2 linked regions of the Homo sapiens genome follow. The protein of the gene in region 2 purifies or fractionates together with the protein of the main gene of each other region. This does not show direct contact. Each region holds a gene or a part of one and is shown on either strand. Other genes may lie near its edges.

Region 1 (3,500 bases), on a different chromosome or scaffold from region 2:
ATTCCTTTACTCTAATTAAGTTTTAGGGTTAGACATAATCATTCTTACCCTGGCCTGGAACACTGGCAAGCCAACTTGAAATGTAAAACCCCAAAGCAATTCAATATTTACTAAATTTAAAGGAAGTAATCAATTTCTAATTCAGATTTATGTACATTCCTTTCCCACTTTAACACTGTCTTATTTCCCTTAAGTTCCTCTTTGGTCATTAAGATTGTCAGCAAGATTATGGCCATTGAACAATTTGTGACATGTTGCAGATATTTCTAAACTAAATTAAATTGTCAATGTACCTGCATATAACAAAAAAAAATGTATTAGACACTTAAGGACAGAGACCCTATATGTTCTATATTCACAGCTGTGTTGCTCCACAGAGAGCTTGGCATGTTCTGTAAATATCTGCAGAATGAATGAAAGAAAAAAATCTATCACTGATAGAATTATTTGCACACATTCAAAATCTCAGGCACACCTGACCCAGCATATGTGTATGTGTCTACACACACATTTGCTCTCACAAAATTCCCACCTGCTCATCATTCAAGTTCAGTACATCATCTTTCCCCTTGGCACGTGCGTTTCTTAAACAAAACACTGAAACAAGATTAATGATAATAAGTGTCCAAAGAAAGACGATTTTGGCCAGGCATGGTGGCTCACGCCGGTAATCCCAGTACTTTGGGAGGCCAAGGTGGGTGGATCACCTGAGGTCAGGAGTCCAAGACCAGCCTGACCAACATAGTGAAACTCTGTCTCTACTAAAAATACAAAATTAGCCAGGTGTGGTGGCACATGCCTGAAATCCCAGCTACTTGGGAGGCTGAGGCAGGAGAATTGCTTGAACCCAGGAGGCGGAGGTTGCAGTGAACTGAGATCGCGCCATTGAACTCCAGTCTGGGTAACAAGAGCGAAAAAAACTCGTCTCAAAAAAAAAGAAAAGAAAAGAAAGATGATTTTAATTAACACTTCTTCCAAACATGCCAATCTTCCAGCACCTAAAAACTGAACTCAATTTTCATCTTAGGAAGCTGTTCCCTTATCCCTAGAAAATATAAACCTTTTAAAGTTCCAACTGCCAATTGACATCTCCAGTGCATAATAACAGAAATTCACAGTTTATCTGTTATGCCTCCCCTGGAAAGCTCAGTTTGAAGCACTTTGCTAACTTAGACCACTGTTACTTCTGCTCAGACTAATGCTCCATACTTGTGCCTTGTTTTCAACCCTTAATACTTCTGAAGCTAGATTCCTCCATCTGCATTCCTGAGAAGGATGACAAAAGCCAGACTACGCTTTCAGTCTCCTAGGACATCCTGCCCTGGAGATTCTCAGCAGGCAATTGGAAATTGGAGTTAGCCTGGGGCTCCGGAATGAATTAAGGGTTGGAGAGGTCAATTTGGGAATCATTAGTGTAGAGGTTAAAGGTGAAGCTATGTGAGGAGGTGAAGTTACCCAGGGAGAAAATATAGCAACAGAAGAGAAGCAGATCAATGACAGGACCTTGGGAATTGCTCTATTTAAAGGGGCAGTGGGGGAGGGAGAAGATGTGGGCACGCGTGTGTGTGTGTGTGTGTGTGTGTGTGTACGTGTGGAAAAGAGATCCCAACAAAGGAAACCTAAGGAATGTAGAGAAGACATCAAGATAGATTATGAACCCTTTCAAGCAAGAGAATATGTGCAAAAGTGCCAGAATCTCCAAAGAGGTCAAGAAGACTGAGGCCAGGGAAGAGGCCATTGAATTGTGAAACATGGTGGTCACAGGTAACCTTTGGGAAAGCAGTCTTTCTGATGCAAATCTTATGAACTTGTGTGCCCAAATATGCATGTGTACAGGTGTATGTGTAAGTACCCCAAATCACTGTAAGATTAAATATACTATTGAGTGAGGCTGCCGCTGGGTATGCCAAAAAACGATGGTAATAACCACCATTATCGACTGTTTACTATGTGACAGGAACAGTGCTAAGCACTTGATATGCACGATCTCATTTTAATCCTCAAAACAAGCCTATATACTGGCTACATTTCACATATAAGAAAACTACCTGAAGCCAACAGAGATGAACTAAATTACCCAACGTCACACAGCTGGAAAGTAGCAGCGCCAGGATTGGACCCGAGGTCAGTTTGACTCTAAACGCCTAGACTGTCAGTCACTGATGTAATGTTTCCACTATAGTAATGTTAATTAGGTAATCTATGCATGAAGGAAAGAGAGCTGATATTGGTTGAGTGTCTCATTGCCAGGTGATTTGCATAGAACATCTCCTTTCACACATATACCATCAACATTATGGCTATGTTTAGGTAAGCCTTATGAGGGCATATTTTTAAAATTCTGATTCAGTTGTTTTGAAAATAAGTTGAAACTATATGATTCCCAAACAACCAGTTATCATTCAAACTTACTATAATAGTTCCCAACGTTTGAAAGGTACAAAAAAAAAAAAGTGTGGCATCATTGATTTGGTGGTTGTTATCAAGATTCAAATTACTGACAATCATACTCATCTGAAAAAGGAGGGAGTGTGACGGGATGATCTTAAAGCTCCCCTCCAGCCTGGACTTTCTATGATTCTTATATGCAGGTCTAATGCCAATAATTTTAAAGATATGAAATATGTAGTAGAATGTAAATGCAGCAGCAGAACTGATTGGCATGTCAGCATCCTTTTATTCATTAACTTTATAGAGGTCTATTGTTAAAATATTATAAAAATAAGTCTGGCTGTTCAAGGCATTGATTGCTAACTGAAACTTGGAAACTCCATTACAAGATGATACACTGAAAATCCAACAAAATAATTTGCTTACAGTCAACTGCAGACCCTATGATACAGTTGGCTATAGGAAAAAGAGAGAGAGATTGACAGGCACTCTGGCTATTAATGTTTTTGCTGTCCTTAGAAAAACAAATGAGGTTCTGGTCTGAAGCAATTAGTATCGCTGTTAATTGTGCAAGTGTGTAGCAATAATACTAGGCATTTGGGATGGCTTCCACTGATTGTTCCCTTCTTTCTCTGGATTACAAAAATCTATTCAGACAACTAAAAAATAGCAAGTACTTATGCAAATTGTTAATTATGAGGCAGCGATAATCATAATCTTGTATATTTATGAAACTGCATATACAATGGGGATTACCAAAAATGTTATTTGTTTTATTGCTTTACTAGTGGTTGAAAAATATGCTAGCCTTGCAAATAGTTTTCATACATCATTCAGCTCACCAAAATTCAAAAAGGGCCCCATTGATATTTACCAAAACCGTTTCTTTCCCATCTCACCATCTGTACTCCTCTTGTTTTCTCTCATTAAGACCAGGTATTAGTTGCTCTGGCAATAATCTGGTCCAACTAATCAACACCATAGTAAAAATAAAGAGTGTGTCAGGATTTGCTTTGTTATACAGCAAAACTGTTTTAAAGAGATGGTCCTATCATCTAGCAATTTTAAAGCAAAAAGAAAACAAAATTCTCAAGACTTCCCCATAAAAG
Region 2 (3,500 bases):
TCATTACTGACATTTTTATGGAGATACTTGTAGATTCCCATACAGTTGTAGGAAATCATACTGAGATCCTTGCCCAGTTTCTCCCAATAGTCACACCTCATAAAACTGTATCATAATACCACAACAGCAGTATCATCCGCGGATCTTATTCAGACTTCCCGTTTCACCGCTACTCACGTTAAGTATTAAGTTCCATCTATGTCATCGCTAGCGTAGTCCCCTGTCTCTGGCATCACAGTCAACATTCTGAACAGCTCCAACACGAGGATGCCCATGGCCTTCTGTAACCACAGCCACCTCCCTCCTGTCCCCCACCCCTTCAGCTCCACAATCGCTAATCTGTCCTCTACTACTAACATGGTGTCATTTCAAAAATTATGTTATATAGGCCAGGCGTGGTGGCTCATGCCTGTAATCCCAGCACTTTGGAAGGCCAAGGCGGGTGGATCACCTGAGGTCAGGATTTCAAGACCAGTCTGGCCAACATGGCGAAACCCTGTCTCTACTAAAAATACAAAAATTAGCTGGGTGTGGTGGCACACACCTGTAGTCCCAGCTACTCGGGAGGCTGAGGCAGGAGAATCGCTTGAACCAGGGAGGCGGAGGTTGCAGTGAGCCCAGATCACACCGCTGTACTCCAGCCTGGGACAGAGCAGGACTCTGTCTCAAAAAAAAAAAAAAAAAAAAAACCCATTATATTATATAAATAAATAATATGGTATGTATGGGACTGTTGGCTTTTTTTTTAACTGCACAAAATTCCCTGGAGGTCTTTCAAGTTGTTGCATCCATCAGCTTGTTCCTTTTCAGTGCTGAGTCATATTTCATGGCATGGAGGTGCCACAGTCTGTTTCTGACTTGGTGGACCCAGGGATCTGCAGAAGCTAGTGGGAAAAACCCAAGCCTGCCTGCAGCCTCTAGAACTGGGTAAGTTCTAAAACACGCTTCCATGGCTACAAATCTGAGCACCTGTTTTGGGGAAAGGACCAACTATGCAAACAGAGGGGCCCCACCCCCAGGGGAGGGCACCAGGAAGTCTGTGTCCTCTATTAGAACCAGACTCTATCCTGGGGGAATAGGATACAAGCGAGGGGAGAACTGCTGGATCTACCCTTGAAATTGGATTCTCAGAGCCGAGACAGATTCTGCAGGGCATGTCACCCACCTCTCATCCTCGCGAGACCATCCTTTTGGAAGAAATAGCATTTTCCTTAGTACGAGTATTAGGAAGCTCTTCCTTCCACCAAGTGTGATCAGCACTGCAATCACCTCTGCACTAATTAGCACTGCAACAGAACCAGCCTAGTTTCCCCACTCAGGAGACGCTCCAGTGGAAGCTCTACATCGGTGCTCGTGTGCTCTCTCAGTCTGCACCTCCTCTGGCTAAACATGCTCAACTCCTCTGATCATTCAAACAAAATGTTTTCTAAACCCTGGCCATCTGGTTCCATCTCACCCTTAGTCATCTTCCCTTGAAGACACCGTTTCCAGAATTCACCAGCATAACCCACAAGAGGTCTGACTAGCGTGGCCTCCACAGGGTCTGCTTGCCAATTACCTTCCTCATTCTGTTTGCTCTTTTTCTATTAATTGTCCAATGATGCATTCAAGTAACACACCCAAACAATAAAACGATTAAAATAAGAAGATGGAAAGAATGATATGTTCCCTCGATGAAAGCTTATAAGGCAATCAAAAATCGTTTTTCAAAAAGTAGATAATGACATGGAAAAGCTATCTAAGATAGAATGTTAAATGAAAAAAATAGGCTGGGCACGGTGGCTCATGCCTGCAATCCCAGCACTTTGGGAGTTCAAGGCAGGTAGACCACTCGAGGCCAGGATTCAAGACCAGCCTGGCCCATATGGTGAAACCGCCATCTCTACTAAAAATACAAAAATTAGCCTGGCGCAGTGGCGCACACCTGTAATTCCAGCTGCTTGGAAGGCTGAGGCAGGAGAATTGCTCAAACCCGGGAGGCAGAGGTTGCAGTGAGCCGAGATCGCGCCACTGCACTCCAGCCTAGGCGACAGAGCAAGACCCTATCTCAGAAAAAAAAAAAATAGTCACTCCTGCCCTTCGAAATTCAGCTCAGGCATCTCCTTGGAGTAATTCTGGGAGATCCCTCTCCAACACCTCCCTCCCAGACTCCTGTGATAGGGGAGGGAAGGGGGTCTGTCTTGCTCCACAAATCTAGCATGAGGTATGATATCTAATAAATGTTTGATAAGTTCATTAATAAAATCATATCTTTACTGCAGAGTGGAATTAGTGATGATTCCATTTGGAGGAGAATAGGTGTGCACACAAACAGCAGAACACACACACAAGACTTGTGGGAGAATATAAACAAAACTATTTATAGAGGCTCTAAAATCTGGGAGAGGGAATTTCAGAAGTTTCACATTTTACACTGTACATTTCTATATTGTGTGACTTCAAAAAGAAAAGCTTCCTAAATGTGGTAATGAGGAAAAAAATTTTTTTAGAAAACATGCATAGGCAATACCAAATTGTTAAAATGTCTTTGTAGGGGTATTTGTGTCATTTTTATTAAAAAAAATTTTTTTTGAGACAGAGTCTCGCTCTGTCACCCAGGCTGGAGTGCAATGGCACGATCTCGGCTCACTGCAACCTCCACCTCCCAGGTTCAAGTGATTCTCCTCTCTCAGTCTCCTGAGTAGCTAGGATTACAGGTGCCCACCGCCATGCCTGGCTAATTTTTGGATTTTTAGTGGAGATGGGGTTTCACCATGTTGGCCAGGCTAGTCTTGAACTCCTGACCTCAAGTGATCCATCGGCCCTGGCCTCTCAAAGTGCTGGGATTACAGGCATGAACCACCGCACCCGGCCTCATTTTTAAATTCTTACTACTTATCTGAGTTGGCTAAGTTTTCTTTAAATATGTATATATTAGACTTTTAATAATAACTTTAAAAGGTATAACCAAATAAAAACATAGGGGGAAGAAAGCACACTTCGACTTTGGGCAGTCACACTTCCATGCCTGATCTCTCCTGGGCTCACTGTCAACTCAGAACTCTGGGTCTCGTGGTTTCTGCTCCATGGTTGAGGGAGGTGGTTCAGTGAGCAAAGCACTGACTCCTGACCCAGACGGATGCATTCTGCTCAGCGCAGCCTATCAGACAGTCTGTCCAGATGCTCTGACTCATAATCAAGTCATACAAGGTATCAGCCTTTCCCTCCCAGCTGGTGTCATCTGTGGAGCTGGTAGGCAAATGCCCCAAGTCCTCATCTGAGCTGTTACTAAATAAGAAATGGCACAGAACCCAGGAAGGGGTGACGAGCAGCCTGAGGTCACCACCCAAAGTGACGTGGATTCAAGAACAGACCCCCCCTTAGGCACAGCCTTTCAATCAGACACAAGCCTACCAGAACTTCGATCCTCCAACACCCAGGGCTCCACACCCAGCAGACAGGAGGCCAATAAAACACCTTGTCCAGGATACAAGTGGTGTGTGCACAACAACCAACTAGAC

The links. The genes of interacting proteins can lie anywhere in the genome.
Region 1: the proteins of ST14 (region 2) and HS6ST2 purify together in Homo sapiens (affinity purification with mass spectrometry; one large-scale study listed by BioGRID and IntAct). This does not show direct contact.

The regions. Positions count from the first base shown.
Region 1 is NC_000023.11:132,703,630-132,707,129, forward strand, and holds part of HS6ST2 (heparan-sulfate 6-O-sulfotransferase 2), read right to left. Parts: intron 1-3,500. UniProt on the Homo sapiens protein: 6-O-sulfation enzyme which catalyzes the transfer of sulfate from 3'-phosphoadenosine 5'-phosphosulfate (PAPS) to position 6 of the N-sulfoglucosamine residue (GlcNS) of heparan sulfate.
Region 2 is NC_000011.10:130,166,282-130,169,781, reverse strand, and holds part of ST14 (suppressor of tumorigenicity 14 protein), read right to left. Parts: intron 1-3,500. UniProt on the Homo sapiens protein: Exhibits trypsin-like activity as defined by cleavage of synthetic substrates with Arg or Lys as the P1 site. Involved in the terminal differentiation of keratinocytes through prostasin (PRSS8) activation and filaggrin (FLG) processing.